7 linked regions of the Homo sapiens genome follow. The protein of the gene in region 1 binds, or shares a complex with, the protein of each later gene. Each region holds a gene or a part of one and is shown in the gene's direction. Other genes may lie near its edges. The genes, in order: SART1, SNRPE, SNRNP200, PRPF6, LSM2, PRPF31 and PRPF8.

Region 1 (3,500 bases):
CACCGTGCCCAGCCCTCTATTCTGTTTAAAGTCATGTTTTGCAAAAATTTTTAGATGCCTGCTTTAGTAGGGGATCCTTTCCTTGCCTCTCTCTTCTGTGCATGTTTGTTGAATGCCTGCTGTGAGTAGTGCATTGTTCTTGGGCTGAGAAGGTCATTGGTGAACAGGATAGCCATGGGGCCCTGGGCTCATGGAGCTGGCTTTCTAGAGTGTGTGGGGGAGAGCGTGGGGAGCAGCAGTGACTGTTAATGCAGGAACGGTAATTTCTGATGGTGGTGGGAGCTGGGCACTCAGTAAACCAAGATAACGTGCCGGGGGTTGGGATCTTAGATGGGAGAGTGCAGGGAAGACCTTTCCAAGGTACTAGTTCATCTGAGACTTGAGTCACACAGAGGAGCCAGCCTTGCGGGGGGTTAGGGGTGGCAGCAGGTGGACAGGCTGGCATTTAGGCAGTAGACCAACCAGCAGGTGTCTCAGGAGAAGTGACCTTAGAGTGCCTGAGGGCCAGGGAGGCTGGAGCAGAGCAGAGAGTGAGGGGTGGCGTGAGCTGAGATGGAGAGGTAGGGGGCCAACGCAGGGGGAGCCTTGACCCCATGGTCGTCGCTGCCCCAGAGGCACAGTGGGCCGGGCACTGCTCACATGTTCTGTGTTTGTTGATTCATTCCATCCTCCCAGCAACACCCTATGAGGAAGGTTCTGTCATCTCCATCATTCCAGAGGCCACACTTTTAGCCCTACCCCACACTTCTCACCTAGGAAGAAGCCAAGAAAGCGTGTCCAGGAGAGGGAGCAAGGGAGGGAAGCTTCTGATACTACTGGGAGGCAAAGTGGGGACAGTTGCAGTGGATTCAGGACCCGGAGGACAGGGGAGTTGAAAAAGTGAGGGCTGAACCCGGGACGGAGGCCAGGCTTACTGTTGAAGGGCTGGAGAGGACGTATTTGAGGTTTAAGGGCATATGGTCTCTGTTAGGCACCTTGAATGCTGTGCTGTTATAGGGAAAACAGCCAAGACAGTCTGTAAGTGAGTGGGCGTGGCTGGGTTCCAGTAATACTTTATTTCTAAGAACAGGTGTTGGGACATAGTTTGCCCGGCTAAAAAGGAACAGAGAAATGGAGCAATAGGCTGACAGGGCTGTTTTATGACTGAAATGAACATAAGGGTTTCTAGCCCCGTGGATCTCAGCCTGCCTGCACATTAGACTCACCTAGGAGGTTGTTTTTGTTGTTGTTTTAAGAAACAAGGTCTCGCTCGGTTGCCCAGGCTGGAGTGCAGTAGTGCAATCATAGTTCACTGCAGCCTTGAACTCCTGGGCTCAAGGGATCCTCCTGCCTCAGGCTCTCAAGTAGCTGAGACTACAGGCGTGCGCCTGTGGGTCTCAGTGTGTTGCCCGGGCTGGTCTCAAATTCCTGAGCTCAAACGATCCTCTCGCCTCCACCTCCCAAAGTGCTGGGGTTACAGGCATGAGCCACCAGGCCTGGTGTAGCCTAGAAAGTTTTTGTTGTTGTTTGAGACGGAGTCTCGCTCTGTCACCAGGCTGGAGTGCAGTGGCGCGATCTCGGCTCACTGCAACCTCCATGTCCCGGGCTCAAGCAATTCTCCTGCCTCAGCCTCCTGAGTAGCTGGAACTACAGGTGCATGCCACCACGCCCAGCTGATTTTTGTATTTTTTAGAAGAAACAGGGTTTCACCGTGTTGGTCAGGCTGGTCTCAAACTCCTCACCTTGTGATCCACCCTCCTCAGCCTCCCAAAGTGCTGGAATTAGAGGCATGAACCACCACACCCGGCCACCTAGAAGGTTTTTTAAACATATGAGCCACACCCCACACACTGTGCAGGCAAAAAAGTGGAAAGCCTATCACAGTGAACACCTTTGTCCTCTAGAGTCAGTAATTATAAACATTGTTACAGTTCTTTTCTTTCTCTTCTTTTTTTCCTGACCACTGGGAGTTGCAGATATCATGACACTGCATCCTTAACGACTTCAGTAGGCATCTGGCGAAATCAGGGCCTTCTCCCGCATAGCCACACTGCCCTAACAAGCCCATAAATGCTGTAAAACAGCAGCTCGCATGCCAACATTTTCCAGTTATCCCCCAAAATGTCTTTTTAGTTTTTTGTTGTAAGCAGCATCCAATCAAGTTTCCCACCCGCAAAGGAGCCTTTTCTGACTACCGGAGATTCTAGAGTATGTGGGAGACACATTTATGACGGAAGAAGAAAAAGATCTCGGCAGGCGGTGCTGGGGCCTAGAGTGCAAGTGGAGGGTGGGCTTGAGTGAAGCCAGCTCGTGTCATCATTTATTTCAGGAGGGAAGGTGGGGAGGGCACAGCAGCTGTGGGTGACCTTGTTTAGGGGAAGTCAAGGCAGCCCATGGCCGATTGTTCTGGTGTTTTTCCAGTGAAGAGGTGGCAGAGGTGGTGGTGCAAAGAGATGGGAGATGCTGTTCTGGAGAGTGGAGAGCAGATACACCCTGGGAGAAGAGCAGGCCTGCCAGTGGCAGTGTGGATGGTGGGATTCATGAGCTGAGGAGGGGGATGGTGGAATTCATGAGCTGCTGAGGGAGGGGGATGGTGGGATTCATGAGCTGAGGAGGGGGATGGTGGGATTCATGAGCTGAGGAGGGGGATGGTGGGATTCATGAGCTGCTGAGGAGGGGGATGGTGGGATTCAGGAGCTGAGGAGGGGGATGGTGGGATTCATGAGCTGAGGAGGGGGATGGTGGGATTCATGAGCTGAGGAGGGGGATGGTGGGATTCATGAGCTGCTGAGGAGGGGGATGGTGGGATTCATGAGGTGCTGAGGAGGGGGGTGGTGGGATTCAGGAGCTGAGGAGGGGGATGGTGGGATTCATGAGCTGAGGAGGGGGATGGTGGGATTCATGAGCTGCTGAGGAGGGGGATGGGATTCATGAGCTGCTGAGGAGGGGGATGGTGGGATTCAGAAGCTGAGGAGGGGGATGGTGGGATTCATGAGCTGCTGAGGAGGGGGATGGTGGGATTCATGAGCTGAGGAGGGGGATGGTGGGATTCATGAGCTGAGGAGGGGGATGGTGGGATTCATGAGCTGCTGAGGAGGGGGATGGTGGGATTCAGGAGCTGCTGAGGAGGGGGATGGTGGGATTCATGAGCTGAGGAGGGGGATGGTGGGATTCATGAGCTGCTGAGGAGGGGGATGGTGGGATTCATGAGCTGCTGAGGAGGGGGATGGTGGGATTCATGAGCTGCTGAGGAGGGGGATGGTGGGATTCATGAGCTGAGGAGGGGGATGGTGGGATTCATGAGCTGAGGAGGGGGATGGTGGGATTCATGAGCTGAGGAGGGGGATGGTGGGATTCATGAGCTGCTGAAGAGGGGGATGGTGGGATTCAGGAGCTGCTGAGGAGGGGGATGGTGGGATTCAGGAGCTGAGGAGGGGGATGGTGGGATTAATGCCCTGAAGCAGTGGATGGTGGGATTGAGGATTGGGTTTTCTAGGGAGGAGGGACAAGGCAGTTAAGGG
Region 2 (3,500 bases), on another chromosome or scaffold:
GGGCAAGGTGGCTCACGCCTGTAATCCTAGCACTTAGGGAGGCCGAGCATGATGAATCACTTTAGCTCCAGAGTTCGAGACCAGCCTGGGCAACATGATGAAACCCTGTTTCTACCAAAAATACAAAAAGTAGCCAGGCATGGTGGTGCGCCCTGTAGTTCCAGCTACTTGGGGGGAGCTGAGGCAGAAGAATTGCTTGAACCCAGGAGGTCCAGCTGCAGTAAGCCGAGGTTGCACCACTGCACTCTAGCCTGGAAGACAAAGTGAGATCCTTTCTCAAAAAAAAAAAAAAAAAAAAAAAAACTTTGGGTGGAAGGTGGGGTGGGGCTTGAGAAGAGTGAATCTTTGAAGTTAGTTGGAGTTTTTATCTGCATAGGTATACTCATTTAAAATGGTTTGAATGTGATTTTCTTTGAAGATAACAGTTTGTTTATTTTTCTAGGGTTTTGATGAGTATATGAACCTTGTATTAGATGATGCAGAAGAGATTCATTCTAAAACAAAGTCAAGAAAACAACTGGGTAAGGATAGAAGTGGTCTTACAGAATTCTAGAAATATTTTATTCACTTGCAGAATTCAGTGACCTGCAACTCAGTTCATGTTTGAATTTATTTTGCATTTGAGAAGTTATTATTCAGAGTAGTAGTACACTTTTGAAATCATCCTCTACTACTCACTCCTCACCACACTCCATTTTGGCTTCTCCACCCAGAGAGCTCTCACCAAGGGAACCAAAGACTAGTGGTATTAAATCTAATGATCAGTACTAATCCTCATTTTATTAAACTCTCAACAGCATTTGGCACTGTTGGCTGCTCCCTCCTTAAAGCGCTTTGTTCCCGTGTCTGAGTGGCAGGAAAAACCCAAGTAGATTTTTCTGTTTCCTCAGTTGACAATAATTAACACAGAAGACTTCTGTGACCAGATGTATGGGCATATTTCCCCACACACCAAGCAAGCAATCAGTTCGGCAGTGGACATCAGCTCAGAGTCGTCAAGTTCAGTTCAGTTCTAACACTATCTACCTGAGATAGCGTCAGTTCCCAGAGGTTGAGGGCTCAATCCCCAAGATTGCCTTCCATGCCCCTCAGTCCTCCACCAGATGCTAATTGTCAGCTCCAGATTGTTTTACCTGTGCTTCTTACTGACTGGCTATAAACTGGGTCCCATGACCCCTCCGTTGGTTTGATTAATTTGCTAGAGCAGCTCACAGAACTCGGGGAAACACTTGTATTTACTGGTCTGTTATAAAGGATATTACAAAAAGTACAGATGAAGAGATGCGTAGGGCAAGGCATATAGGAAGGGATGCGAAGCTTTTGTGCCCTCTGCAAGCTCACCACTCTGGGAACCTCCACATGTTGAGCTATCAGAACCCCATTGTTTTCAGTTTTTATGTAAGCTTCATTATGTAGGCATGACTGATTAAATTGGCCGTTGGTGATCAGCTTAACCTTCAGCTCCTTTCCTCCTCCCCGGGTGGGAGGGTGGGGCTGAAAGTCCGACATCACTAATGCCTTGGTCCTTTCAGTGAGCAGCTCCCATGCTGAAACGTTGTAGGGGCTGCTGGCCATCAGTCAATCATTAGCATACAAAAAGGCAACATCTTAGAGATTCTAAGGATTTTAGGAGTTGTATGGGATTGAAGACCAAGTAAATATTTTGCAGTATCACACCTTGGCTCTACGATATTATACTTGGGTTTTTATTTTTCACTTCTGGCTATTTTTCAGACTTATATATTCATTCTTGGGACCCAATCACTAAATGAGTTGCTCCAGGCTTGGTTCTAGGCCCTCCTGTCATTCAGTATTGTCTGCCTAGGCACTGGAGTACAGCTTCAGTTACCATCTATAAATACTGACTCCCAAATTTGTTTGTCTGGGCCTATTCACCATTTCTACTTGAATGTTTCAAAGGCTTCTTAAAGTCAGCATATCAGAAAGCAAACTCAATTCCAACTCACACTGTTTAGAGCTATTGTATTATTATTTCCTGCCTTATTGAATGGCACCAGTTTCCAGTTCAGCTTACTAATTGATTTCTCTGCAGCTACCTCCAGTTTGCTTTCCAGGCCTCACTCATCTTTTAAAAACACCAGTCTGAACATATGTCATCCCTTTGCTTGAAATACTGCAATGACTTCCTGTTGCTGTTAGGATAAAAAAAAATCTAATGATTCTGCAAATCTAATGATCTTCATGATCTAGTCTTATCTCCCTCTGCTCATCTCGTATCACTGCCTCACTTTCTGAGCTTTAGCAACACTTGTCTTATTTCAGTTCTTTGAATCTGCAGATTTGCCCAACCATTAATCTTTGTATATGATATTCCTTGTGTCTGTAGAGCTCAGATCAAATATCACTTCTTTTAAGACAGCGGTCCCCTAGGCCAGGTGCAGTGGCTCACACCTGTAATCCCAGCACTTTGGGAGGCCGAGGCGGGTGGATTACGAGGTCAGGAATTCAAGACCATCCTGGCTAACATGGTGAAACCCTGTCTTTCCTGAAAAAAAAAAAAAAAAAAAAAAATTAGCTGGGCATGGTGGCGGGTGCCTGTAGTTCCAGCTACTCGGGAGGCTGAGGCAGGAGAATGGCGCGAACCTGGGAGGCGGAGCTTGCAGTGAGCTGAGATCACGCCACTGCGCTCCAGCCTGGGCGACACAGCGAGACTCTGTCTCAAAAAAAAAAAAAAAAACAGTGGTCCCCAACCATTTTGGCACCAGGGACCGGTTTTGTGGAAGACAATTTTTCTGTGGACTGGGGTGTGGGGGATGGCTTTCGGATGATTCAGGCACATTACATTTATAGTGCACTTTATTATTATTACATTGTAATATATAATGAAATAATTATACAACTCACCATCATGTAGAATCAGTGGGAGCCCTGAGCCTGTTTTCCCACAACTAGACAGTCCCATCTGGGGGTGATGGGAGACAGTGACAGATCATCAGGCATTAGGTTCTCATAAGGAGTGCGCAACCTAGATCCCTCTTTGCCCGGTTCACAATAGGTTTTGCGCTCCTATGAGAATCTAAGGCTTCCACTGATATGACAGGAGGCAGAGCCCAGGCGGGAATACTAGTGATGGGGAGTGGCTGTAAATACAGATGAAGCTCCGCCACCTCGCCCACTGCTCACCTCTTGCTGTGTGACCCAGTTTCTAACAGGGACCAGGACTGGTACTGGTCTGTGGCCCAGGGGTTAGGAAGCCCTGCTCTAAAAAGTTCAAAGTTTAATTTGGTTTTGCTGGGGATGGGGGAAGGCGGGATTATGTGCTCCCTGAGTTTGTAGTAAAACCTTTATTATTGAAATTATTTTATTAGTGTCTCTCCTGTTATCAGATGCTTCACCGTAAGTGTATGAGTCATGCCTTTTTTGATCCCAGTGTGCTCAGTACCTAACTCAATGCCTGGCACATAATAGAAACTAAAAAATATTTGAACAATGAATGGTATTTCTTTCTTTTGTTTTTGGAGACAGAGTCTCTGTCGCTC
Region 3 (3,500 bases), on another chromosome or scaffold:
TTCCTCTGAGCCTGCACACATTCCTGCCCTTGCCCCTCTCCAGGACCTTGGCTTCTGGTGGTGATGGTGCAACTTCTGCTTCCTGCTGCAGGTGCCCTGGGGCTGTGAGTATCTCGTGACTGTAGCAAACTGTGGCTTCTCCTTAGGTGCTGGTGTTTGTCCACTCCCGGAAGGAGACTGGAAAGACAGCCAGGGCCATCCGGGACATGTGCCTAGAAAAGGACACTCTGGGTCTGTTTCTGAGGGAGGGCTCAGCCTCCACAGAAGTCCTGCGAACAGAAGCTGAGCAGTGCAAGGTGAGGAGGGGCCAGCTGGGTTCTCTCATTCCTACCTGGCAGCTGTGTCCATCTCAGGCCCCAGACAGCTCCTCTAGGACTGTACTGTGGTATTGTTGTTTCCCATGGGTTAAGGTTGATTGTCTGGATGTGATTATTACTATTCCACATAATAGTTAAGGGGCAGGGTCTCATGGGAGGAGATTTCCTTAGTCCTTGGATGAGTCCTACAGGAAGGCTCGCCTCATCCCCGGTTCTTTGTTCCACAGAACCTAGAGCTGAAGGATCTTCTGCCTTATGGCTTTGCTATTCATCACGCAGGCATGACCAGGGTTGACCGAACACTCGTGGAGGATCTTTTTGCTGATAAACATATTCAGGTGAGGGGGTGCAAAGCGTTTGGAGGAGCAGGTGGGACATACTTCAGAAGATGGGCAATGTCAAGTTTGTGCCATGTTTGCTCCTGGTACTTTATTGCTTCTGGCCCAGCTAGCCCAGGTCAGAGGGTTGTGGTGGACACAATAAATAGAACCTTATGCTACTCTCCCAACTCTTCCCACCTTGCTTGAGTTTAGGATAGTCTGAGAAGCATAGTGAAGCAAGCACTTTGGTGACTTCAGATAGCTCCAAACAGTGTCTCATGGGGGCACGCGTGCCCTTGTCGTTCCCTCTTTCCGGATAGGCTCTGTTTTACCTTTTCTAGTAACTTTAAGGTTGTTTAATACAAGTCTGCACTTGTGCCTCTGGAACCTTGAAATGTTCATTACTGAATAGATGAGGAACCCAAGGAAACCTTTCCTCTTTATTCTGGTGTCACATTGACAAGTACTGGGACCCCACGCGCCCTACCGGCTAGTCCTGAGAGAAGCTCTGAGGCCAACTGCCTAGAGAAGCCAGGGATATTAACCCCTGGTGATGGCATCTGTTCTCCTCATTACCTTGTTTTGCCTCTGTAGGTTTTAGTTTCCACAGCAACTCTAGCTTGGGGTGTGAATCTCCCTGCACATACAGTCATCATCAAAGGCACCCAGGTGTACAGTCCAGAGAAGGGGCGTTGGACAGAACTGGGAGCACTGGACATTCTGCAGGTACAGAGCCTTTTGAGTTTATTCTCAGCAGGGATCAGTATCCTTGCCTGAAATGCAGGGATGCTGGAAAGCTAGCAGATCAGAGGTCTAGTTCTGTAATGTAGATACCTGCATCAAAATTCAGACATTCTCTTGACATAGCATTCTTGGTTCGCTGTCTCTGATCTAGATGCTGGGACGTGCCGGAAGACCCCAGTATGACACCAAGGGTGAAGGCATACTCATCACATCTCATGGGGAGCTACAGTACTACCTGTCCCTCCTCAATCAACAACTTCCTATTGAAAGCCAGATGGTTTCAAAGCTTCCTGACATGCTCAATGCAGAAATCGTGCTAGGAAATGTCCAGAATGCCAAGGTAGGGGAGGACTGCTTGTTGTGCTTCATGCTTTCCCCGCAGACACCAAGGCACCAGGAGTGGGTCGGTCCCTATTGTGCTGCGGGCCAGCAGCGTCCGAGGCCTTCCATCCCTGCACCCACATCTTGGGTCTGGCAGATAGTTCCCCTTGTTACCAAGATCTTAGAAGACGCTTAGATCTTTTTAATAATGAAATGCTAAAAACATTCAGAATACGATGTAATATGCATCCTTGTAGTTGGGAATTAATTTCTAAGCAATTCATGGGAGCCTGTCATTTGGACATCAAGAGTTTCTCCATGCTAAGAACCATGAGCTGTGTCTTGTAGGATGCGGTGAACTGGCTGGGCTATGCCTACCTCTATATCCGAATGCTGCGATCCCCAACCCTCTATGGCATCTCTCATGATGACCTCAAGGGAGATCCCCTGCTGGACCAGCGCCGACTAGATCTGGTTCATACAGCTGCCCTGATGCTGGACAAGAACAATCTGGTCAAGTACGACAAGAAGACGGGCAACTTCCAGGTGCGTGGGGTGAGGGTTTTGAGGCAAAGGTCTCAGCAAAAGTTGTTGGCCCAGGAAAAAATTTTTCAGATTGCTCTCTTGATGTGAGTACTGCCTATCTAATCACCTGTTGCTTAGAACAGCAGAAAAATGGGTAGCTTTTCCCATAACTTGAGGTGGATAATTCAGCTGTCTTGTCCGTGCAGACATCATTTCACTATGGGTCAGCTTATTCTGCTGTTTTTCTTCATGTGCCTGGGCCTGGCACTTGTACTGCTGTGACTTCATCCAGTTGTCCTATTAGGACAATAATGACATTGGGTCATATACTTTACCAAAAAAAAAGTACAAAAAACCTATAGGACAGTAACTTATGGTCCACAGTTAGAGGTTGGAGCTCATTAATAGTCAGCACTGGATTGAGTCTACCTTCTCTCCAGGTGACAGAACTGGGCCGTATAGCCAGCCACTACTACATCACCAATGATACAGTGCAGACTTACAACCAGCTGCTGAAGCCCACCCTGAGTGAGATTGAGCTTTTCAGGGTCTTCTCATTGTCCTCTGAGTTCAAGAACATCACAGTGAGAGAGGTGAGCCTATGCAGCATGATGGGGCGGGGAGTTGGTGCTCACCAAGTCACTGAATGGTGTCCCTCCTCGGCCACAAGGCTTTCCCTTGACCTTTTCCTCCTTGTGGCAGGAGGAGAAGCTGGAGCTGCAGAAGTTGCTGGAGAGGGTGCCTATCCCTGTAAAGGAGAGCATTGAGGAACCCAGTGCTAAGGTGAGCTCCTCTCCTCTTTGCTTTGATAAGGATGAGGATTAAGTGGTTTTCATAATCTTCTAAAAGATGAACCTTGAATTTGGGTTCATGTGTGGTTTCCTGCTCAGTTCTCCTAGTTTTTGCAGCCTTCTCGCATGTTCTTTTTATATGAAATAACAATTATTTAGTATTTGTAAATCAAGACCTGTAGCAAATCTCACCTGGCCTGGATGCTCAGAGCAGAAATGTAATTCCCTTTCTTGGACTGTTCAGTGATTGGTCTCCTGCTGGCTGATTTTGCTTCTTTACAGATCAACGTTCTTCTGCAAGCCTTCATCTCACAGCTGAAATTGGAGGGCTTTGCACTGATGGCTGACATGGTGTATGTCACACAGGTGAGAGCGGAGTTGTATGGCAGCTGTGAGAAGGGGCCTGAACAGTTCAATCCCTGTGTGCTGTGTGCATCCTGGGGAAAGGAGGCCCGACCCTAGTGAGATGGGAGGAGTGCTTA
Region 4 (3,500 bases), on another chromosome or scaffold:
AAAAACATCAGGCTGGGTGCAGTGGCTTACATGTGTAATCCTAGTACCTTGGGAGGCCAAGGCAGGAGGACCACTTGAGTCTAGGAGTTCGAGACCAGCCTGGGCAACATGGTGAAACCCTGTCTCTACAAAAACAAAATTAAAATTAGCCAGTTGCACATGCCCGTAGTTCCAGCTACATTCCCAAGGCTGAGGCAGGAGCATCGCTTGAGCCTAGGAATTAGAGGCTACAGTGAGCTATGCTTATGCCACTGTGCTCCAGCCTGGGCAACAGACCAAGGCCGTGTCTCTAAAACAAAAACAAAACAAAAAACAGCAGGTGACACGGACCCATGAAGAAAGCCATTAAATTAAATGTTTTTAAAAAGTAGTGTACTTGGCCGAGCACGGTGGCTCACACCTATAATCCCAGCACTTTGGGAGGCCGAGGCGGGCAGATCATGAGGTCAGGAGATCGAGACCATCCTGGCCAACATGGTGAAACCCCGTCTCTACTAACAATACAAAAATTAGCTGGGTGTGGTGGTGCATGCCTGTAATCCCAGCTACTCAGGAGGCTGAGGCACGAGAATCACTTAAACCCAGGAGGCGGAGGTTGCAGTGAGCTGAGATCGCACCACTGCATTCCAGCCTGGTGACAGAGTGAGACTGTCTCAAAGAAAAAAAAAAAAGTAGTGTACTTATTAAAACTTTTTATTCTGAAAACTGTCGTAATACAAACAAGTAGGAAGAACAGTACTGTGAATACCATATCCTCACATGTAGTCTCAACACCGAAGTGCAATTACATGGGTTATGTTCTGGCACATAGAGCTGTGCAGCTGAGCTGAGTTGGTTAGAGGTGAACTATTTACTTGGAAGAGAAGGAAGCAAGGAAGGAAAGGTGGGATGAGTTCAGTAGAGTGTTTGGAGTGTTTGGTGGTAACTAGGATAGTTACTGTTTTTCCTTGTAGGTGTTTTTTTGTTTTGTTTTGTTTTGTTTTGTTTTGCGACAAGGTCTCGCTCTGTCGCCCAGGCTAGATTGGCTCACTGCAACCTCCACTTCCTGGATTCAGATGATTCTCCTGCCTCAGTCTCCCAGGTAGCTGGGGATTACAGGTGCCCACCACCATGCCCAGCTAATTTTTATTTTTATTTTTATTTTTTTGAGACGAAGTTTCACTCTTGTCACCCAGGCTGGAGTGCAATGGCATGATCTTGGCTCCCTGCAACTTCCACCTCCCAGGTTCAAGCAATTCTCCTACCTCAGCCTCCTGAGTAGCTGGGATAACAGGCATGCGCCACCACGCCTGGCTAATTTTCATATTTTTAGTATAGATGGGGTTTTACCACATTGGCCAGGCTTGAACTCCTGACCTCAGGTGATCTGCCCACCTCGGCCTCCCAAAGCGTTGGGATTACAGGTGTAAGCCACCACGCCTGGCCTTCTTAGGTGTTTATGGGATGGTCCTACCTTTGGGATTTTGTGAATTTTCAAGCAGTAAATATACACATGTCCAAATGGAGGTATTTAGATCAAAGTAAGATCTTTTTTTTTTATTTTAATGAATTTCTACATGTTTTTATTTGGTGGATAATTGAATTAGTAGACTTACGAATGTATTTATATTTATTTATTTAGAGGCAGAGTCTCTCTGTGTTGCCCAGGCTGGAGTGCAGTGGTGCGATCTTGGCTCACTGCACCCTCTGCCTCCTGGGTTCAAATGATTCTGCCTCAGCCTCCCAAGTAGCTGTGATTACAGGTGTGTGCTACCATGCCCAGCTAAGAATGTATTCATAGTTACCTTAAAATATATTTGATTTGGGCTGGGTGCGGTGGCTCACACCTGTAATCCCAGCACTTTGGGAGGCCAAGGTGGGTAGATCACAAGGTCAGGAGTTCGAGAACAGCCTGGCCAGGATGGTGAAACCCCGTCTCTACTAAAAACACAAAAATTAGCTGGGAGTGGTGGCGAGCACCTGTAATCCCAGCTACTTGGGAGGCTGAGGCAGGAAAATCACTTAAACCCAGGAGGTGGAGGTTGCAGTGAGCTGAGATTGCGCCACTGCACTTTAGCCTGGGTGACAGAGCAAGACTCCATCTCAAAAAAAAAAATGTGTGTGTGTGTGTGTGTGTGTGTGTGTGTGTGTGTATATGTATATATATATATATATATTTGATTTAGCTACTAAGAGTATGGAATTGTTCTTTTTGGTGATTTAATTGAGATGGATAATAAATTTGCTTCAGAACAGACATGCAGTGTTTCTGATGTGTGCATGTTTTATTTCCTAGGGAGCAAAGGGAGAAAGAAGAAATAGAGAAATATCGTATGGAACGCCCCAAAATCCAACAGCAGTTCTCAGACCTCAAGGTGAGCCGATGAAGCGGTGAATGGTGTGCGGTTTCTAACGCTCTCACCCTAACCCGCAGAGACTCAGACTGCTCTTACGTGGAATTTATGAGACTTTACGTTTTTAATTTAGGGGGTCATTGCTTAGAAGAAGAAAGTGTTTGCTTCAGTATGTTTAATTATATGTGTGTAAAAAAAAACCCTTCCCCTACTGTAAAAGGTAGGACAAATGAACTTATTTTCTTTGTAATTTTGACTCCATTTATACCTAAGATTTTCTTTTTTCTTTTTTCTTTTTTTTTTTGGAGGCAGTCTGGCTCTGTTGCCCTGGCTGGAGTGCAGTGGCGTGGTCTCAGCTCACTGCAACCTTCACCTCCTAGGTTCAAGCAATTCTTGTGCCTCAGCCTCCTAAGTAGCTGGGATTACAGGTGCCTGCCACCATACCCAGCTAATTTTTGTATTTTTAGTAAAGACAGGATTTCGCCATGTGTACCAGGCTGGTCTCAAACTCCTGAACTCTAGTGATCTGCCCACCTCAGCCTCCCAAAGGGCTGGGATTACAGGCGTGAGCCACCACGTCTGGCCCCATTTATACGTAAGATTTTCTAAACTGTGTCCCCTGGGCTTTGAGAGAATAATTTACATTTTAGTGAAGTTGAACAGATCCAATAAATTGATTTTTCTTTTCTTTTTCTTTTTTTTTTTTTTTTGAGACGGAGTTTGGCTCTTGTTGCCCAGGCTGGAGTGCAATGACGCGATCTCAGCTCACCGCAACCTCCGCCTCCCAGGTTCAAACGATTCTCCTGCCTCAGCCTCCCTAGTAGCTGGGATTACAGGCATGTGCCACCATGCCCGGCTAATTTTGTATTTTTAGTAGAGATGGGGTTTCTCCATGTTGGTCAGGCTGGTCTCGAACTCCCGACCTCAGGTGATCTGCCCGCTTTGGCCTCCCAAAGTGCTGGGATTAACAGGCATGAGCCACCGTGCCCGGCCTAAATTGATTTTTCTAAGTGAAGTAGAAAACTATTTTTGGGGCTGGGTACAGTGGCTCACATCTGTAATCTCAGCACTTTGGGAGGCTGAGGTGGGAGGATCACTTGAGCCCAGGAGTTTGAGACCAGCCTTGGGGAGAACCTGTCTTTACAAAAAATAAAAACTTAGCCAGGC
Region 5 (3,500 bases), on another chromosome or scaffold:
CGCTGGGTTTTAAAGACTTTCAGAATTTTACAAAAATTGGGGCAGAGAACTGCCAACTTTATTTTTGGCAAGATAAGGACGTTTTTAAAACTGCTATTTATTACGATTATTTTTATTTATTTATTTTTCTTGAGATGGAGTCTCACTCTGTCACCCAGGCTGGAGTGCAGTGGCTCGATCTCGCCTCACTACAACCTCCACCTCCCGGGTTCAAGTGATTCTCCTGCTTCAGCCTCCCGAGTAGCTGGGATTACAGGCGTCTGCCACTATGCCCAGCTAATTTTTTGTATTTTTAGTAGAGATGGGGTTTCACGATGTTGGCCAGGCTGGTGTCGAACTCCTGACCTCGTGATTCGCCCGCCTCGTCCTCCCTAAGTGCTGGAATTATAGGCGTGAGCCACCGTGCCCGGCCACAGTTATTTTATTTTATAACTTTAAAATAGAGATGAGGTCTTGCTATGTTGTCTGGGCTGTTCTCCAGCTGGCTTCAGGCGATCCTCCTGCCTCAGCCTCCCAGAATGCTTGGATTATAGGCGTGAACAACCATTCCCAGCCAAAGGCTGTTTTTTTAAATTTTTGCACCATTCTCTCAAAGAGCACTGGTGTTTTGATAGCATTCCTCAAATAGCATTTCAAGGGGCTCGAGGATTGGGGAATGGAGAGGACATCACTCATGCCTGCATCATCAAGAGTAATGCTACCTACCTTTATCCACATATGGGCTCTGGTTCCAAAGCAATAAATGTTTGAAAATAGCTAGCCTGGGTGACATTCACAGTGAGACCCTTTCTCTACAAAAAAAAAAAAAAAAAGTCGGGAATGGTGGCTCATGCCTGTAATCCCAGCACTTTGGGAGGCTGAGGTGGGCAGATCATGAGGTCAGGAGATCGAGACCATCCTGGCTAACACGGTGAAACCCCGTCTCTACTAAAAATACAAAAAATTAGCCAGGAGTGGTGGCCGGCATCTGTAGTCCCAGCTACTCGGGAGGCTGAGGCAGGAGAATGGCGTGAACCTGGGAGATGGAGCTTTCAGTGAGCCGAGATTGTGCCACTGCACTCCAGACTGGCCGACAGAGCGAGACTCCATCTCAAAAAAAAATCAGCTGGGCATGGTGGCTCAAGCCTGTAATCACAGCTACTCAAGTGGCCACAGTGAGCCATGATCACGCCATTTCACTCCAGCCTTGGCCATAGAGTGAGACCCTGTCGCAAAAATAAAAAAAAAATAGCTGATGGTTTTGGGAGTCACACAGACTTGGACTGAAGTTCCCATTTGTTCTAAACTCATAAAGTTTAAAACAACCTCTCTGAGCCCCTGGAAGGTAATAACTACTTTGAAAGATGGCTGTAAAGATTACAAATACTATATAGAATACAGGTCTAGCCTTTACCAGTTGTTTAATGGTAGCTGTTAAGAATAGGTTGGTTTGGCCGGGGACAGTGGTTCACACCTGTAATCCCAGCACTTTGGGGAGCTGAAGTGGGCAGATCGCCTGAGATCAGGAGTTAAGGAACAGCCTGGCCAACATGGTGAAACCCCATCTCTACTAAAAATAAAAAATTAGCCGGGCATGATGGCATGCGCCTGAAGTCCTAGCTACTCAGGAGACTGAGGCAGGAGAATCGCTTGAACCTGGGAGGCAGAGGTTGCAGTGAGCCAAGATCACACCACTGCACTTCAGCCTGGCTGACAGTGAGACTCCATCTCAAAAAAAAAAAAAAAAAAAAAAAGAATGGATTGGTTTAGGGAGAGGAGATGTGGGGTTGAAAATAAACTACTCTGTTAGTTGTCTTTCCTACTCCAGGGCTTAGGAATGCCCCCTTTTGGTTCTACCTTTTCTGACATCCTCAAGTCCTTGACTTCTCCCAGTCATGTTCTCATCCCAGCTCTGAAGTCACCTCTATGTTGACTTTGTTATAAACTAATTTGATTCTTCTCTCCCTCTGCCCTTGACAGCATCTGTGGAACCCTCCATTCTGTGGATCAGGTGAGATATAGCACGGGCCCCAGAATTGGTTCCTGGAGAAGGAGAGGGGAGACTTAAGGGTTGGGTTCTTACATCATGTCTCTAGGGTTAATAATGGTGTTCGTCGGCCAGGCACGGTGGCTCACGCCTGTAATCCCAGCACTTTGAGAGGCCGAGGCCTGAGGTCAGGAGTTCAAGACAAGCCTGACAAACATGGTGAAACCCCGTCTCTACTAAAAATACAAAAAATTAGCTGGGCGTGGTGGTGGGCACCTGTAATCCCAGCTAGTCGAGAGGCTGAGGCAGGAAAATCATTTGAACCCAGGAGGCGGAGATTGCAGTGAGCCGAGATGGCACCATTGCACTCCAGCCTGGGCAACAAGAGCAAAACTCTTGTCTCAAAAAAAAAAAAATAATAATAATAATGGTGTTCATCTTCCTTTCCTAGTATCTCAACATCAAACTAACTGACATCAGTGTCACAGACCCTGAGAAATACCCTCACATGGTGAGTTGGGGTCTGTGGAGAAGAGGAAACACCTCTAAAGCAGGAGGCCCCTGGGTGGTTAGAGGACATTTTTAAGGGTGTTTTCATATTTGTCCATCTTTGTCTAGTTATCAGTGAAGAACTGCTTCATTCGGGGCTCAGTGGTCCGATACGTGCAGCTGCCAGCAGATGAGGTCGACACACAGTTGCTACAGGATGCGGCAAGGAAGGAAGCCCTGCAGCAGAAACAGTGATGGCTCCTCCTCCTCTTCCCCTCCCTCTTTCATTGGTGACCCATAACCCCAAGTCCCAGCCCAGAACCCCTAACCCCCAATACTTGAAGGGGTTTTGTTTTTTTACTAATGATGGTTTTGTGGGTTTTTTTTAAGGGATGAGTGGATGAGAGGAGTAATAGGGAACAGCTATCCTCTCTTGAGAAGGGGAGGATAAGTAGGCTGGGAAACTTCAAAGCCTTCCCAGTCCCCAGCACCTGCCTTTCTCACTACTTCTCTGGAGATGGTAGGAGAGTTTCCTAGGTCTTTCCAGGGCAGCATGTGATTCATTTGGGGATGGAAGGAATCTGTCCCGCATCGGGAATAAAATTTATGATGCAAATTTGTGTTTTGGTTCTGTTACTATGTGTTGGGCAGGGGGCTGGGACATGGAAAAGGATGTCGAATTCATCCAAGCCCCTGTTACTCTGCGTTAACCCAGCCAAGAATCCAACTCAGCTTCCCACTACTCTCCTTGGTATAAAGCATATAATACAGTTGCTCTACACCATGTTTCCCCAACATGTCCCTACCTGTATGTTCTCCCTGTGGCCTTTTGCTTATACCATACCTGCAACTGGAGTGCTTGCTGTCCTTCCATTAATGTGATAGTGTCATAAGATACATTTCATGCTACCAGACTTCACCAATCCAACCAAATCAGTTCATGTTTTCTGAATATGTATAGAAGATAAATACAAGTGATGTAATTTATATTTTAGAGAAAAGTTGTGACTGGGAATTACTAAACTTCATTCACTCATTCAGCAAA
Region 6 (3,500 bases), on another chromosome or scaffold:
AGCAAGGCGCTTCTTTTCTTTAAGAACATGTCACTGCAGCTCACGTTTTACAGACCAGAACTAATTCCCCTGGTCACACCTAGCGGTAAGGACGGCTGAGAAAGGCTGTATGCTGGTGCCCGTGTGCCAGGCCACAAGCCAGGGCTTCAGTTACTAAAGGAAGAAGGGGACATGGGTGTTAGGGCCAACCAGCAGAGTCTACCTTCCATCTCACCCGACAACCTCCTGTCCCGTTTACCCTAGACATCATCCATAAGTTCATCCGGGATAAGTACTCAAAGAGATTCCCTGAACTGGAGTCCTTGGTCCCCAATGCACTGGATTACATCCGCACGGTCAAGGTGAGCGCAGAGAAGGTGGGGTGCTTCTGCTGGCGTGAAGGGGCAGGCGGGGCTCACTCTCGGACCCCCTCCCAGAGGCCTGAGGGTCTGGAGACGATGGAGAGGAGTGGACGAGGGCTCAGTGGTCTGCTCTGCCCAGCGTGGGAGGGACGGAGCCTGGACAGGACTTTCTCAGGGCTCCCCTCCAACCCCAGTCTCCCGAGAGGGCTTCCCCGCTGGCCTGACCCACGCTGCTCCCGCTGTGGTTGGAGCCGGTGGCATTGGAGTTGACATCCGAAGGTTGACACAGGGCAGGCACACGGAGATTTGGGGGAGAGAGACGTCTAAGTGCAGAGAGCTGGAGAGGGAACAAGTGGGGAGGAAGTGAGGCGGGGAAGGAGGGGACGGGGAAGAGGTCGGATCACGTCCAGCCTTTGGGTCTTAGGAGAAAGCCAAGGAAGGGTTTCGGAAAAGAGGGGCAGGTGTGCGTGAGGGCGGGGAGAGGAGGAGGTCCCCACGCATGTCCAGGAAAGGATTAGGATGGCGGTGGGGAAGCCCCTGCAGGGAAGCGAGGCCGCGGATTTGCACTCCGACTTGACGCAGGCCAGAGGCTTGTGAGGCCACAGTCTTTCCAGACGCCACTCTGCCCGGGCTCCGTTTCCAGGTCAGCGAAAGCAGGGCAGATGGTGTGGATGCTTGACGTGGTGGAGGCAGGAATGGTGTGGATGCTTCAGGCGGTGGAGGCAGGAGAGGCCCCCAGTGCAGAGACCCTGACTGTCCCAGTGTCCCTAAGAAGAGACCTGAGGAGGTGCTGAGCAAGAGAGGTTCTCGAGCCTTCCTGAGTTCCCGAGCCTCCCCTATCTTCTCTGCTCGCCCCCAGGAGCTGGGCAACAGCCTGGACAAGTGCAAGAACAATGAGAACCTGCAGCAGATCCTCACCAATGCCACCATCATGGTCGTCAGCGTCACCGCCTCCACCACCCAGGGGTATGTCCGCTTCGAGGGAGGCGCCGGGCCCTAATGGGATTGGGGATTAGGCTGGAGCTACACACGCAGGTGTACACACGCACACACACATACACACATGCACACACACACACAGAACCGAGAGGGCTGGGGCTGGGCACACCAGGCAGGCGGGAGACCCAGGAGGCTGGGCCCACCCGCCCCTGCAGGCAGCAGCTGTCGGAGGAGGAGCTGGAGCGGCTGGAGGAGGCCTGCGACATGGCGCTGGAGCTGAACGCCTCCAAGCACCGCATCTACGAGTATGTGGAGTCCCGGATGTCCTTCATCGCACCCAACCTGTCCATCATTATCGGGGCATCCACGGCCGCCAAGATCATGGGTGAGTCCCCGGGCTGGGTCCCATGGAGCGGGGGTCTGCTGACACTGTGACCTTGGGAAAGCTACATCCTTTTCTGTAGAATGGGGGCTTTGGCACCTGGACCTCAGCACCCCGTCTCCCTGGACATCACAGAGGTCAGCCAGCCTGGCACACAGCAAAGCCTCATCTGTGGGAAAAACACTCACCCACAGCTCCTTCTCCCTCCCCTGTGCCGGAAACCCAGAGATGACCACACCCAGGCCCTGTTGTCAGGGAGCTCCTGGTTTGGTGAAAATGGTTCCAAAACACAGCCATCCCTGGAACGGCGTTAGTGTGGCTTAGCACAAACGTGGTGGTCAGCTTCCTGTTGGGGGCCTCCTCCCTGCACCCCCAGGCCAGCTGCCCTCCCTCTCTGAGCCTCCTTTGCATCTGCCCCTTGCGGAATGGGCCAGGTCGCCCGCCTGGCAGGGCCATCGAGGAATCCAACCAGAACTTCATGTAAAGGTGCCCAGCACACGTCGAGCCCCCAGGCAGATTTACTCACCCCCACCTCTCTGCTTTCTTCTGACCGCCCCCCCTTCCTCCCTCCCTCCCACCGCAGGTGTGGCCGGCGGCCTGACCAACCTCTCCAAGATGCCCGCCTGCAACATCATGCTGCTCGGGGCCCAGCGCAAGACGCTGTCGGGCTTCTCGTCTACCTCAGTGCTGCCCCACACCGGCTACATCTACCACAGTGACATCGTGCAGTCCCTGCCACCGGTGAGCCCACTGCGTCATGGCCCCTCCCCCGGCCCCCCTGGAGCCTTCCGCTGTGCCCAGACAGCCTGAGCAGCCACCCACCATCTGGCCCAGCTGACGGTAGCACTCAGGAGCTGGGAACAGGGTGGCATGGGACGTGAGAGCCAGGGCTCTGCAGCAGACCAGCTCCAGCACCCACCAGTCAGGTGACTGTGGGCAAGAGGCATGAGCGCCCTGTGCCTCAGTCTCCTCCCCTATCAAATGGGAGCACAGCGCCTGCTTCATGAGTTGGGACGAGGGCTCAGTGCACATGAAGCACTTACAGTTCAGGCCTAGCTCACGACAAGCAGCGTCGGGTTAGCGTGCAACTGCTCCGAAGACCACCCTCAGGTTTGACCATTCACTAGAAAGACTCACAGAATCCACTGAGGGCTGCACATCAGCCATGGGGAGAGACACACAGGAGGGGCAGGAGAGGTCACCAACCTCGGAGCTTCCCGGGTCCTCTCCCTGCAGTCGGGACACATCACCATCCCAGCATCGACGCCTGACAGCACACACACAGGCCCGCTAGCCTGGCGGGGCGCAGTGGCTCGTGCCTGTCATCCCAGCACTTTGGGAGGCCGAGGCGGGCAGATCACCTGAGGTCAGGTGTTCGAGACCAGCCTGGCCAACATGGTGAAACCCCATCTCTACCAAAAATACAAAAAACTAGCTGGGTATAGTGGCACACACTTATAATCCCAGCTACTTGGGAGGCTGAGGCAGGAGAATCGCTTGAACCCAGGAGGTGGAGGTTGCAGTGAGCTAAGATCATACCACTGCCCTCCAGCCTGGGTGACAGAGTGAGACTCTGTCTCAAAAAAAAAAAAAAACAAGCAAGACAGGTTCTGGGACAGACAGGCCTGGGTCCAGACCCTGCTCTGTCCAACTGTGGCGAGTTACCTCAGGCTCACGGCCCTGTGCCCTGCCTGGCCTCCCCCAGGGATGGGGAGAACAATAGCACTGATGGCCAAGGCTGGGCAGGCACTTCCTGGCCCCACCCCCCAGCCCTGTGTGGGGTTTTTTTTGTGGTCTTTTCTGCGACCCTTTAGGTCAGGCACTGCTACTGGAACACA
Region 7 (3,500 bases), on another chromosome or scaffold:
TCCTTAGTGATATTTTTTGTATACTTCTATCGATTACTGAGGAGTATTAGAAATCTCTAGTAATCCCAGCAGTTTGGGAGGCTGAGGCTGGTGGATTGCTTGAGCACAGGAGTTCGAGACCAGCCTGGGCAACATAGCGAAACCCCATTTCTACAAAAAAAATACAAAAATTAGCTGGGTGTGGTGGTACACGCCTGTAGTCCCAGGTGCTTGGGAGGCTGAGGCGGGAGAGTCTCCTGAGCCTGGGAGGTGGAGGCTGCAATGAGTGGAGATGGTGCCATTGCACTCTAGCCTGGGCAACAGAGCAAGACCCTGTCTTGCTTGAGAGAAAGATCCAACTACAGCTGTGAGTTTATTGTCTTTCAGGTCCATCATTTTTGAAATTCTGTTATTAGTTACATAATGTATTTAGGATTATTAGGTCTTCTGAACGAGTTGACTACTTTATCGTATCAAATATCCCTCTGTATTCCTGATAACATTCCATGGTCTGAAGTCTTTGTCTTAATCAGTAGTGCCACTCCAGCTTTGTTTTGTGTTTGCATGGGTGTATTTTTCCATCTTTTTACTGTTAATCTGTGTCTTTGTAACTAAAGTTTATTTCCTATAGACAGCATATAGTTGGCTCTTTTTTTTTTTTTTTTTTTTTTTTTTTTTGAGATGGAGTCTCTTCCTTGGTTGCCCAGGCTGGAGTGCAGTGGCATGATCTTGGCTCAGTGCAACCTCTGCCTCCCGAGTTCAAGCGATTCTTCTACCTCAGCCTCCCAAGAAACTGAGACTACAGGCGCGTGCCACCACGCTCAGCTAATTTTTGTATTTTTAGTAGAGACGGGGGGTCTCACCATGCTGTCCAGGCTGGTTTCGAACTCCTGACCCCGAGGCCCGCCTCAGCCTCCCAGAGTGCTGGGATTACAGGTGTGAGCCACCATGCCCGGCCTTTTTATTTAAATCCAATTTGACAATGTTTGCCTTACAAATGGTCTAAATACCTCAATTAAGGTTAATGTAACTATCAATGTGGCAATGTAGCTCAGTTTAAATCTACCGTCTTACTCTTTTTTTTTTAAATTATTTTTTCTGCTTTTCTCTTGTCCTGCCTTCTTCTGAATTTAGTTGTTTTGTGACTTTATCTCCACTTTTCACTTATTTGGCTACATGGTTTTTTTCTTATTGTTTGCTCTAAGGTTTACAGTATATACATAGCTCACTTACTGTGATCTACTTTGACCATTAGTCTACTACGGATCACTTCACATATAGTACAAGAACCTTAGAATAATACACTTTAAGTTCCACTCCCACTCTTAGTAGTATTTTTGTCATAACATTTTAATTGTACATGTATTATAAGTGCTATAATACTTTGTTACTCTTTTTGCTTTGAACAGCCTTTATCTTTTGTAGAAATTGCAAAATGAGAAAAAATATTTTTTTGCATTTTACCCACATACTTACCATTTCTGGTGTTCTTCACTAGTTTGTATAGCTCCATCTGGTGTGCTTTTTTTTTTCTTTTTCTTTTCTTTTTTTTTTTTTTGAGACACAGTCTTGCTCTGTCTCCCAGGCTGGAGTGCAGTGGTGCGATCTCAGCTCACTGCAACCTCTGCCTCCTGGGTTCAATTTCTGTATTTTTAGTAGAGACGGTTTCATGTTGGCCAGGCTGGTCTTGAACTCCTGACCTCAGGTGATCCACCCACCTCGGCCTCCCAAAGTGCTGGCATGACAGGCGTGAGCCACCACACCTGGCCCAGGGGAACCATTTTTTTTTTTTTTTCCCCTGAGATGGAGTCTCGCTGTGTTGCCCAGGCTGGAATGCAGTGGCACAATCTCAGCTCACTGCAACCTCCACCTCCCAGGTTCAAGCGATTCTCTTGCCTCAGCCTTCTGAGTAGCTGGGATTACAGGCGTCTGCCACCACACCCGGCTAATTCTTGTATTTTTAGTAGAAACAGGGTTTTGCCATGTTGGCCAGGCTGGTCTCCAACTCCCGGGCTCAAGCAGTCCTCCCACCTTGGCCTCCCAAAGTGCTGGGATTATAGGCATGAGCCATCGCGCCCAGCCTCATTGTGTTTTGCTTTCTATTTCCCTAGTGACTAATGATGTTGAACTCAAATCTTTCTTTAGTAGTAGGGATAAAACTAACTGCATCAAGTAGTCTCCACCCTCCCCGCCCCTGGCTCATCTGTAATTTACTTTTTTTTCTACTACCTTTAGATTGTGAATAAGTGGAATACAGCTCTCATTGGCCTTATGACATACTTTCGGGAGGCTGTGGTGAACACCCAAGAGCTCTTGGACTTACTGGTGAAGTGTGAGAACAAAATCCAGACACGTATCAAGATTGGACTCAACTCCAAGATGCCAAGTCGGTTCCCCCCGGTTGTGTTCTACACCCCTAAGGAGTTGGGTGGACTCGGCATGCTCTCAATGGGCCATGTGCTCATCCCCCAATCCGACCTCAGGTACAGCCTGGTTCAACGTATTTCTAAACCCTATTGCTCAGGCCCTAAGGGAAGTGGGTATTTCTTTAGTTTTAGGCTTTATTTTTTCTGTAATCTTGGTTGTACACCCAAACAGGTGGTCCAAACAGACAGATGTAGGTATCACACACTTTCGTTCAGGAATGAGCCATGAAGAAGACCAGCTCATTCCCAACTTGTACCGCTACATACAGCCATGGGAGAGCGAGTTCATTGATTCTCAGCGGGTCTGGGCTGAGTACGCACTCAAGAGGCAAGAGGCCATTGCTCAGAACAGGTGGGCACCTAGGAGGGCATGCCAACCCTGGGGCAGGGGCAGTGGTGGCCTTTGAACCGTGTGGAGTTCAGGGTCAGAGCATGCCATGGTTGTATGGAGGTGAGAAGGCTGGTTCTACTGACCCTAATTATTTTTGGCCAGGAAGGAGTGCTGAGCTCCTCATATGAGATCACGTTTTGACTTGAATCTTTCTTTTTTTGGAAGACGCCTGACTTTAGAAGACCTAGAAGATTCATGGGATCGTGGCATTCCTCGAATCAATACCCTCTTCCAGAAGGACCGGCACACACTGGCTTATGATAAGGGCTGGCGTGTCAGAACTGACTTTAAGCAGTATCAGGTATGTAGAGGGAGCAGATTTTCCCTGAGTCAGGAAAATCCATGGCTATCCCCGAAACTTGGGGCAATAGGCACCCAGAAGCTTGACCGTGCCTGCCTTGCCATCTAGGTTTTGAAGCAGAATCCGTTCTGGTGGACACACCAGCGGCATGATGGGAAGCTCTGGAACCTGAACAACTACCGTACAGACATGATCCAGGCCCTGGGCGGTGTGGAAGGCATTCTGGAACACACACTCTTTAAGGGCACTTACTTCCCTACCTGGGAGGGGCTTTTCTGGTGAGGATTCTCCTCTCTTAGAGGGACCTGTCACAACCCTTTGAGCTCATCTCTTGTATGCCTCTGTGATTTCCTGTGGTGTTTCCCAGACAGCCACCTCCAGGAGGTTAGCAGTGTGCTGGGAA

What was found.
Region 2: SART1 (region 1) and SNRPE share a complex: the UniProt entries of both Homo sapiens proteins name them as parts of the U4/U6-U5 tri-snRNP complex.
Region 3: SART1 (region 1) and SNRNP200 share a complex: the UniProt entries of both Homo sapiens proteins name them as parts of the U4/U6-U5 tri-snRNP complex.
Region 4: SART1 (region 1) and PRPF6 share a complex: the UniProt entries of both Homo sapiens proteins name them as parts of the U4/U6-U5 tri-snRNP complex.
Region 5: SART1 (region 1) and LSM2 share a complex: the UniProt entries of both Homo sapiens proteins name them as parts of the U4/U6-U5 tri-snRNP complex.
Region 6: SART1 (region 1) and PRPF31 share a complex: the UniProt entries of both Homo sapiens proteins name them as parts of the U4/U6-U5 tri-snRNP complex.
Region 7: SART1 (region 1) and PRPF8 share a complex: the UniProt entries of both Homo sapiens proteins name them as parts of the U4/U6-U5 tri-snRNP complex.

What each region holds. Positions count from the first base shown.
Region 1 is NC_000011.10:65,968,234-65,971,733, forward strand, and holds part of SART1 (U4/U6.U5 tri-snRNP-associated protein 1), read left to right. Parts: intron 1-3,500. UniProt on the Homo sapiens protein: Plays a role in mRNA splicing as a component of the U4/U6-U5 tri-snRNP, one of the building blocks of the spliceosome. May also bind to DNA.
Region 2 is NC_000001.11:203,864,599-203,868,098, forward strand, and holds part of SNRPE (small nuclear ribonucleoprotein E), read left to right. Parts: intron 1-442; coding exon 443-521; intron 522-3,500. UniProt on the Homo sapiens protein: Plays a role in pre-mRNA splicing as a core component of the spliceosomal U1, U2, U4 and U5 small nuclear ribonucleoproteins (snRNPs), the building blocks of the spliceosome.
Region 3 is NC_000002.12:96,288,547-96,292,046, reverse strand, and holds part of SNRNP200 (U5 small nuclear ribonucleoprotein 200 kDa helicase), read left to right. Parts: intron 1-146; coding exon 147-296; intron 297-544; coding exon 545-655; intron 656-1,231; coding exon 1,232-1,363; intron 1,364-1,532; coding exon 1,533-1,721; intron 1,722-2,050; coding exon 2,051-2,248; intron 2,249-2,667; coding exon 2,668-2,820; intron 2,821-2,929; coding exon 2,930-3,010; intron 3,011-3,300; coding exon 3,301-3,384; intron 3,385-3,500. UniProt on the Homo sapiens protein: Catalyzes the ATP-dependent unwinding of U4/U6 RNA duplices, an essential step in the assembly of a catalytically active spliceosome. Plays a role in pre-mRNA splicing as a core component of precatalytic, catalytic and postcatalytic spliceosomal complexes.
Region 4 is NC_000020.11:63,991,132-63,994,631, forward strand, and holds part of PRPF6 (pre-mRNA-processing factor 6), read left to right. Parts: intron 1-2,275; coding exon 2,276-2,354; intron 2,355-3,500. UniProt on the Homo sapiens protein: Involved in pre-mRNA splicing as component of the U4/U6-U5 tri-snRNP complex, one of the building blocks of the spliceosome.
Region 5 is NC_000006.12:31,796,967-31,800,466, reverse strand, and holds the end of LSM2 (U6 snRNA-associated Sm-like protein LSm2), read left to right. Parts: intron 1-1,959; coding exon 1,960-1,990; intron 1,991-2,417; coding exon 2,418-2,477; intron 2,478-2,584; coding exon 2,585-2,710; 3' UTR 2,711-3,071; downstream 3,072-3,500. UniProt on the Homo sapiens protein: Plays a role in pre-mRNA splicing as component of the U4/U6-U5 tri-snRNP complex that is involved in spliceosome assembly, and as component of the precatalytic spliceosome (spliceosome B complex).
Region 6 is NC_000019.10:54,122,254-54,125,753, forward strand, and holds part of PRPF31 (U4/U6 small nuclear ribonucleoprotein Prp31), read left to right. Parts: exon of another isoform or gene 1-153; intron 154-238; exon of another isoform or gene 239-243; coding exon 244-341; exon of another isoform or gene 342-389; intron 390-1,200; coding exon 1,201-1,307; intron 1,308-1,495; coding exon 1,496-1,665; intron 1,666-2,245; coding exon 2,246-2,403; intron 2,404-3,500. UniProt on the Homo sapiens protein: Involved in pre-mRNA splicing as component of the spliceosome. Required for the assembly of the U4/U5/U6 tri-snRNP complex, one of the building blocks of the spliceosome.
Region 7 is NC_000017.11:1,660,868-1,664,367, reverse strand, and holds part of PRPF8 (pre-mRNA-processing-splicing factor 8), read left to right. Parts: intron 1-2,214; coding exon 2,215-2,462; intron 2,463-2,577; coding exon 2,578-2,757; intron 2,758-2,961; coding exon 2,962-3,097; intron 3,098-3,205; coding exon 3,206-3,375; intron 3,376-3,500. UniProt on the Homo sapiens protein: Plays a role in pre-mRNA splicing as core component of precatalytic, catalytic and postcatalytic spliceosomal complexes, both of the predominant U2-type spliceosome and the minor U12-type spliceosome.